Linked DNA regions of Homo sapiens. The protein of the gene in region 2 interacts with the protein of the main gene of each other region in a biochemical or structural test. Each region holds a gene or a part of one and is shown on either strand. Other genes may lie near its edges.

The links. The genes of interacting proteins can lie anywhere in the genome.
Region 1: the proteins of PTPA (region 2) and PPP2R3A form a complex in vitro, tested with the Homo sapiens proteins (one study listed by BioGRID).

What each region holds. Positions count from the first base shown.
Region 1 is NC_000003.12:136,101,710-136,105,462, forward strand, and holds part of PPP2R3A (serine/threonine-protein phosphatase 2A regulatory subunit B'' subunit alpha), read left to right. Parts: intron 1-297; coding exon 298-473; intron 474-1,548; coding exon 1,549-1,667; intron 1,668-3,753. UniProt on the Homo sapiens protein: The B regulatory subunit might modulate substrate selectivity and catalytic activity, and might also direct the localization of the catalytic enzyme to a particular subcellular compartment.
Region 2 is NC_000009.12:129,128,266-129,132,018, reverse strand, and holds part of PTPA (serine/threonine-protein phosphatase 2A activator), read right to left. Parts: intron 3,035-3,753; coding exon 2,909-3,034; intron 498-2,908; coding exon 380-497; intron 1-379. UniProt on the Homo sapiens protein: PPIases accelerate the folding of proteins. It catalyzes the cis-trans isomerization of proline imidic peptide bonds in oligopeptides. Acts as a regulatory subunit for serine/threonine-protein phosphatase 2A (PP2A).

The DNA.
Region 1 (3,753 bases), on a different chromosome or scaffold from region 2:
GCCACCGTGCCCAGCCTCTAATAATAGTTCTGAAAATAAATACAAGAAAGGAGCGATATAGACGTGTTATCTGAAAATAGGAAGGTAAAAAGCAAAATGGGGTTGAACACGGTTGATTCTGGGTGGAAAAATAAAGGGAAGAAGGGGTCCGCCATTTTCTCTAACAAACTTTGTAAAACTATATCTAAGCCTGAAGTGTATGTAATATGTAACTTTTACTTTAAAAGAAACATACTAAATCTGGATAAATAAAAGGTCTTTACCAGGCCCATGATAATGATTGTCCTTATCATCTAGCATTGAGTATTGGTTCCGCTGCATGGATGTGGATGGAGACGGTGTACTCTCCATGTATGAGCTGGAGTACTTCTATGAGGAGCAGTGTGAACGGATGGAAGCCATGGGAATTGAGCCCTTGCCATTCCATGATTTACTGTGCCAGATGCTTGACCTAGTGAAGCCAGCTGTTGATGGTGAGACCAAGCAATGGGACAGATGCACTGTTCACCTATGTATCAGAGGAGGGCAAAGAATCCTAGATTGTCCTAAATTATTTAACATTTCAGAGTCTTGATAGAAGACTTCCTAGGACAGAAGTGTTTAAAGTTTCTCCTTGACTATTAGTGTAGCAACTTTTTTTTTTTTTTTTTTTTTTGAGATGCAGTCTCGCTTTGTCTGCCAGGCTGGAGTACAATGGTGTGATCTCAGCTCACTGCAACCTCCGCCTCCTGGGTTCAAGTGATTCTCCTGCCTCAGCCTCCCAAGTAGCTGGGACTACAGGCAACCACCACCATGCCCAGCTAATTTTTGTATTTTTAGTAGAGATGGGGTTTCACCATGTTGGCCAGGCTGGTCTCGAACTCCTGACCTCAGGTGATCCACCCACCTCGGTCTCCCAAAGTGCTGGGGTTACAGGCGTGAGTCACCATGCCCAGGCTTAGTGTAGCAATTGATGGCAAGTCTGCTATTTAAGAAATAGGATTTTACACCAGGCACAGTGGTGTATGCCTGTAGTCCCTGCTACTAAGGATGCTGAGGTGGGAGGATTGCATTATGATTGTTCCTGTGAGTAGCCACTGCACTCCAGCCTAGGCAACACAGCGAGACTGTATCTCTTTTTTAAAAAGAAAATGAAAGCGGGGTTTGGGGGATGAAAGAAGATTTTTCCTTAGACACAGAAAGCACATGAGGAGAGATGGGAGGGACTGCTTGATGGGCACAGAGTTTCCTTTTGGGGTGATGATATTATTACAGAACTAGATAGTGGTAATGGTTGTACAACATTGTGAGTGTACTAAAAGCCACTGAATTATGCACTTTAAAATTGTTTAAATGGTGAACTTTATTAGTGAATTTTACCTCAATAAAAGAAATGGGTTTGAGAAATTGATACCCTTGAAAAAAGAAATGAGATTTAAATTTTTTTATTCTGAAAATAGGACTTTTATAATAAACATATACCTATACTTTTAGATGTCAGGGAAAGTTTTTTCCTCTTGCCAAAACAGCTCTTGATGAAATTTACCAGATTTGTTTATTTTTATGTAGGCAAAATAACTCTAAGAGATCTGAAGAGGTGCAGAATGGCTCACATCTTCTATGACACTTTCTTTAATCTGGAGAAATACTTAGACCATGAACAGAGAGATCCCTTTGCGGTCCAGAAGGTAACAGTATAATTTTAACTTTTATTTGAGGGCTGCAGTGTCAGGGGCTGTGTGTGCTACATATTAACATGGTCTCTGCATGCTGGAATTTCGGTAAAGAGGTAACATTTGTAACATTTCATTAAAGACTAAAAAGAGACAATAAAGGACCTCTAGAGCACATGTCTCTCCACAGCCGATCGTCAGGTCTAAGTAACCTGCATCTGTGTAAGCACTTTCCACTGAGCGGACTCTATAGCTCATCTACTGATACACACACTGGAAACAAAAGAGTAGTTTTGAAAAAAAAATTGTCCTTCTAACTTTTAAAAATATATCAATAGGCACATCTGTATTAGAAACTATATTGGCCTTGATTCACTTGTACCATTCATTTCCAGGATTCCATGGTAAGTAGCTTTCCCCATCACGGTAAAAACTAGAGTTCTCCATGATAGAAAACCTTCAAATAATATAACGCCTTTTCACGTGTTAATGATTGCCGTTCATGGCTATCAGTTTTGAATGCATTCTACATCTGAATAAAGCTGAATATCCTTCCCCAGACACACAAACCTGTGGACCCTCAGAAAACCCTATACATACGATCCATGTTAAAAATAAAAACAATGTCACCCCTTGTTCTTACCATTCCTCTAAGAAGTAAAAATTATGTTAAGAACAGACTGTTGCAGTTGAGTAACAGTAAACTATAAGAAGCTTTTGCATTCTTTTTTCTTCTGCATGTTCCATAACTGTTTGACCTAAATAGTAGTAAGAATATGATCACCTTCTAAATAAGATAAATAAGAATTTATCGCCTTCCAAAAACAAATATTCTGCAGCTGACCTCAGCATATCAAGTTGCATTATCGCTGGCTTAAAGTCTGTTATGGTTCATTGAATTTAACATGCTCCATAATTTTATATTTGTTTCTTTCTTTGTGTGTGTGTGTGTGTGTGTGTGTGTGACAGAGTTTCGCTCTTGTTGCCCAGGCTGGAGTGCAATGGTGTGATCTCGGCTCACCGCAACCTCCGCCTCCCGGGTTCAAGTGATTCTCCTGCCTCAGTCTCCTGAGTAACTGGGATTACAGGCATGCACCACCACACCCAGCTAATTTTGTATTTTTTGTACAGACAAGGTTTCTCCATATTGGTCAGGCTGGTCTCGAACTCCCGACCTTAGGTGATCTGCCCACCTAGGCCTCCCAAAGTGCTGGGATTACAGGCGTGAGCTGGCTGTGCCCAGCCTGTTTTATAGTTCTCTAAGCAAAAACAAAACCCCAAACATTGCCAGTTGTAAGCCTATAATGCATTGCAATTTTATAAATGTTAGAAGGATAGAGATGGGGTCTTAAAAGGAGTTAAATATAGTAATTAATAGTGGTCATTGTTTAGGAACTTAACATTATTCTTGGCATAACTAACTCTAGACCCTAGGGCAATACTAACTCATGTTCGGCTTGGAAAGACATTTTATCTGAAACATAAAATTTCAAGAAAATTCACAAAAGTGTGTGGTCTTTTCCCTCTTCACTTATTTTCTTTGTGTTACCATTTTTACTCTAAAAAAATTACCTTTAAATTTTACTTTTTTTAATAAATGGTATAATTATTGATATTTGTTCTGATCTACAAAGAACATTATTAGTCAGTGCTTAATAAATTCTGGGCACTGTGTTGAAGAGATACTGGATATATGGAGATGGCAGAGATACAAGAACAAAAGGTGGCAACCAAAGTATCTACATTAGGAAAAAGGAAGTGATATGGAGAGAAGGGCTGTTTCCAGGAAGCTATCACAGACAGCGTGGTATCTGAGTTGGCTTTTAAAGAACAAAAATTTGCCAGCGAATGGGGGCTTGGGGAAGGTACATTTCAGGCGGGCCTGTGGCAAACCACAAGTCACTCCAGGTGGCTGCTGTGCAAAGTGCCAGAGGAGAGGGGACCAGAGAAATGTCTCTGATTACAAGGCTAAAGAGTAGACTTACCAGGTGCTATGGCTTGTGCTTGTAATCCCAGCTACTTAGGAAGCTAAGACGGGAGGATCACTTGAGGCCAGGGGTTCAAGACCAGCCTGGGCAACATAGTGAGCCCCTGTGTCTAC
Region 2 (3,753 bases):
AGCGTTCCCATTTCTCAAAGCTTCAGTAAGCTGCTGCCTTGACACACAGTAAGTGCTCAATTAATAATTATTTTGGTGATGATGAGGAGCTCAGAGACCATTTTCACAAGAACAGAAAGCAGCGCTGCGCAAGCACCATGCACGGGGCATCAGCTCCCCCTGGTGGACCACAGCAGAGCTGCAGCATCCGGGCCTCCCTGCATGCCTACGCCCTCCCTGCCGGTGAAGCCACCCTAACCCCAGCTGGCCCCAATAGGTTGCAGGTGCTTGGCGAATTCTTGATTGCTCTCACTTGCTCAGAGGGCCCAGAGACCACCTGAAGCCCAAAACAGAAAGCAGTGAAGCTAGATAAGTACAGAGCCCCACAAGCAGCAGATACCTGTGCCGTAGTCAATGCGCGTGGAGTTCCCCACTGACTCCTTTAGGTAAACAGCCACCTCAGGCACAGCAGCTGCCAGATGGGTAGGGACCACTGTGGCCACCAAGTTTTCTGCTTCCTGGTAACACAAGAGACACAAAGTGGTGGCAGCATATTAAGCAGCATCCCAGTGGGCAGGTGCCCAGGGGCAGCACCTGACTGGGGGCCCACACTGCCTTGCCAGGCCAGCTTGGTTCCTGTTCTGACAGGCCACAGAAGGAAGGGGAGGGACAGCATTTATTCTTCCACAGCAGAAGACTACCCAGGCGACTTATCATCAACTGATTTTTCCAGGGCACAGGAGTCTAGGGGCAAAACAGGAGGAATCTGGAAAAAAGCCTCAACCCTCCCATGTGGTAACTCACTGGAGCCCCACAGAGACTCTGGAAGGTCAGTGCTATGATTCCCACACAGGCCACCTTCCTTCACACTCTCAGGTCAGCAAGAGCTGGTGTCATGTGCCATCAAAAGACGTGCAGAAGAATGTTCACAACAGCACTGTTTAGAGTAGCCAAAAGGTGGAAATGCAATGGAAATGTCCATCAACAGTGAAATGAATAAATTGTGGTATATTCATACAATAGAATACTACACAGCAAAGAAAAAGACCTATAGCTAGACATGAAAACATGGATGAATCTCAGACATGACATTGAGCAAAAGAAGCCAGAGAGTTATACGAAGTTCAGAAACATGGAAAAAAATCAATTTATGGAATAGAAATCAGAATAATCTGGGCGATATCAATTGGGAAGGGGAGCACTCCAGCTAGAATGTTCTATTGCTTGACATGAGTGGTGAATCCATGGGTAAAAAACTTGGCATGAGTGGTGAGTCCATGAGTAAAAACATGTAAAAATCCATCAAGCTGTAAAGCTATGATTTGTCAGCTTTAAGATATAACTTAAGGCTGGGAGCAGTGGCTCACACCTGTAATTCCAACACTTTAGGAGGCCAAGGTGGGCGGATCACCTGAGGCCAGGATTTCGAGATCAGCCTGGCCAACATGATGAAACCCCGTCTCTACTAAAAACACAAAAATTAGCCAAGCATGGTGGCGCATGCTGTAGTCCCAGCAACTTGGGAGGCTGAGGCAGGACGATTGCTTGAGCCCAGGAGGTCAAGGCTGCAGGGAGCTGAGATCATGCCACTGCACTCCAGCCTGAACAACAGGAAAAAAAAAAAAAAAAGATCATGTACCATCTTAAGAGTCCAGAGGCAGGCCCGGGCGTCTCTTGGGAACAGCACTTCACTGGGTCCTGAGTCCTCCCCTCTGCTCTATGTGAAAATATTGGGCCAGAGCAATTAGGACCCAAATTTCCTTAAGCTCAGTTGTAGACAACTGGCATGAGCCATCTCCTGGAAAGCTAGTAAAAATCCAGGTTCCCAGTCCCTACCCAGACCTGTAGACTCTGCTTTTCTAGACAGGGTCTGAGATCCTGCATTTTTATTTTTGTTTGCTTTGAATAGGTAACACCTTCGTAAGATTCAAAAATAAAAACATCAGTAGAGGATCAGTTCAATAGACTAGTCCATCCACACCATGGAGTATGCAGCTAGCATTCCAAGTGGGTGTGCAATGGCTCCATCATAGCTCACTGCAGCCTCAAACTCCAGAGCTCAAGTCATTCTCCTGCTTCAGCCACCCAAGCAGCTGGGACCAAAGGTGTGCACCACCATTTCTTATTTTTTGCAGTAACGGGGTCTTGCTATGTTGCCCAACCTACTCACAAACTCCTGGGCTCAAGTGATCCTCCCGCCTTAACCTCCCCGAATTCTGAGATTACATGTATGAGCCACCGTGCCCAGCTATGAAAAAAATTCCTTTTTGGGGCCGAGCGTGGTGGCTCACACCTGTAATCCCAGCACTTTGGGAGGCCGAGATGGGCGGATCACAAGGTCAGGAGATCAAGACCATCCTGGCTAACACGGTGAAACCCCGTCTCTACGAAAAATACAAAAAATTAGCCGGGCGTGGTGGTGGGTGCCTGTAGTCCCAGCTACTCGGAAGGCTGAGGCAGGAGAATGGCGTGAACCCAGGAGGTGGAGCTTGCAGTGAGCCAAGACTGCGCCACTGCACTCCAGCCTGGGCAACACAGCGAGACTCCGTCTAAAAAAAAAAAAAGATAAAATAAAAAATAAAAAAAATTCCTTTTTATAGCTGCACAGTACTCCATGATATTGATGGACTAATTTATTTAAATAATCCCCTACAGATGGATACTTGGAACATTTCCAGTTTGCTGTAATACAGTGACTTAATAAACAGCCTTGTAGTGCAGAGGGCCGTATGTGCACAGTCGTGTTTCCCAGAAGATGACCAAGCAGAGTATAAACTCATTTGTAATTTTGCTAAGTGAAATTGACATTTTAACAAACTGAGATTTGTATATGCCTAGAAGCGCTATACAATGCAGGCCCTTCCCCAACTGGTGCCAGAACCACCCTCACTGCCAGCCCAGTCCCTGGCCTGTCCTGTGGCAGCCTCACCTCATCAAGTTTGGCATACCAGGTCCTGTATGCCTTATTCCCAAACCGAGAGGGCTGGTCCACTGGAGGAGTCTCATCAATCCACCTGTCCAGCGTGTTGAGAAGAGCGACTAGTTTCTCAATGGCCTGTGGAGGCAAAATAGAGGGGTCCAAGCTACAGAGCAAGTGGCTCCCGCTTAGCCACAGAGGGAAGTCCACTGCTGCCAGACAATGACCCCTTGGCATGGCCCCTACTGGGAACTCTCCCCCATCCCTCTTTCTTCCCCACTGTTCTGAATATGAAGGAGGGTCAGGAGAGCATGATAGGCTTTCCAGAGAGGGAAGCACACTAGGCTGATGGGACAGGGACGGGGTGGCTTTAGCACCTGGTTTCTGTAGGCAGCCTACCCATGGGCTGCTGCTATAGAGAAGCTAACTCCAGCCCTGACATCTTTTTAAAAAGACTTTATGGAAGCCTTTTGTTCAGTATGCAATACCTACTCATCATAAAAAATAGAAATATAAACAGAAGAAAATGAAAATGACCAGTAATCCTGCCACCCAGAAATACACTAAACTTTTTTTTTTTTTTTTTGAGACAGAGTTTCGCTCTTGTTGCCCAGGCTGGAGTGCAGTGGTGCAATCTCGGCTCACTGCAACCTTTGCCTCCCAGGTTCAAGCGATTCTCCTGCCTCAGCCTCCCAAGTAGCTGGGACTAAAGGCGCACACCACCACGCCCAGCTAATTTTTGTACTTCTAGTAGAGATGGGGTTTCTCCATGTTAGTCAGGCTGGTCTCAAACTCCCGACCTCAAGTGATGCACCTGCATCGGCCTCCCAAAGTTCTGGGATTACAAGCGTGAGCCA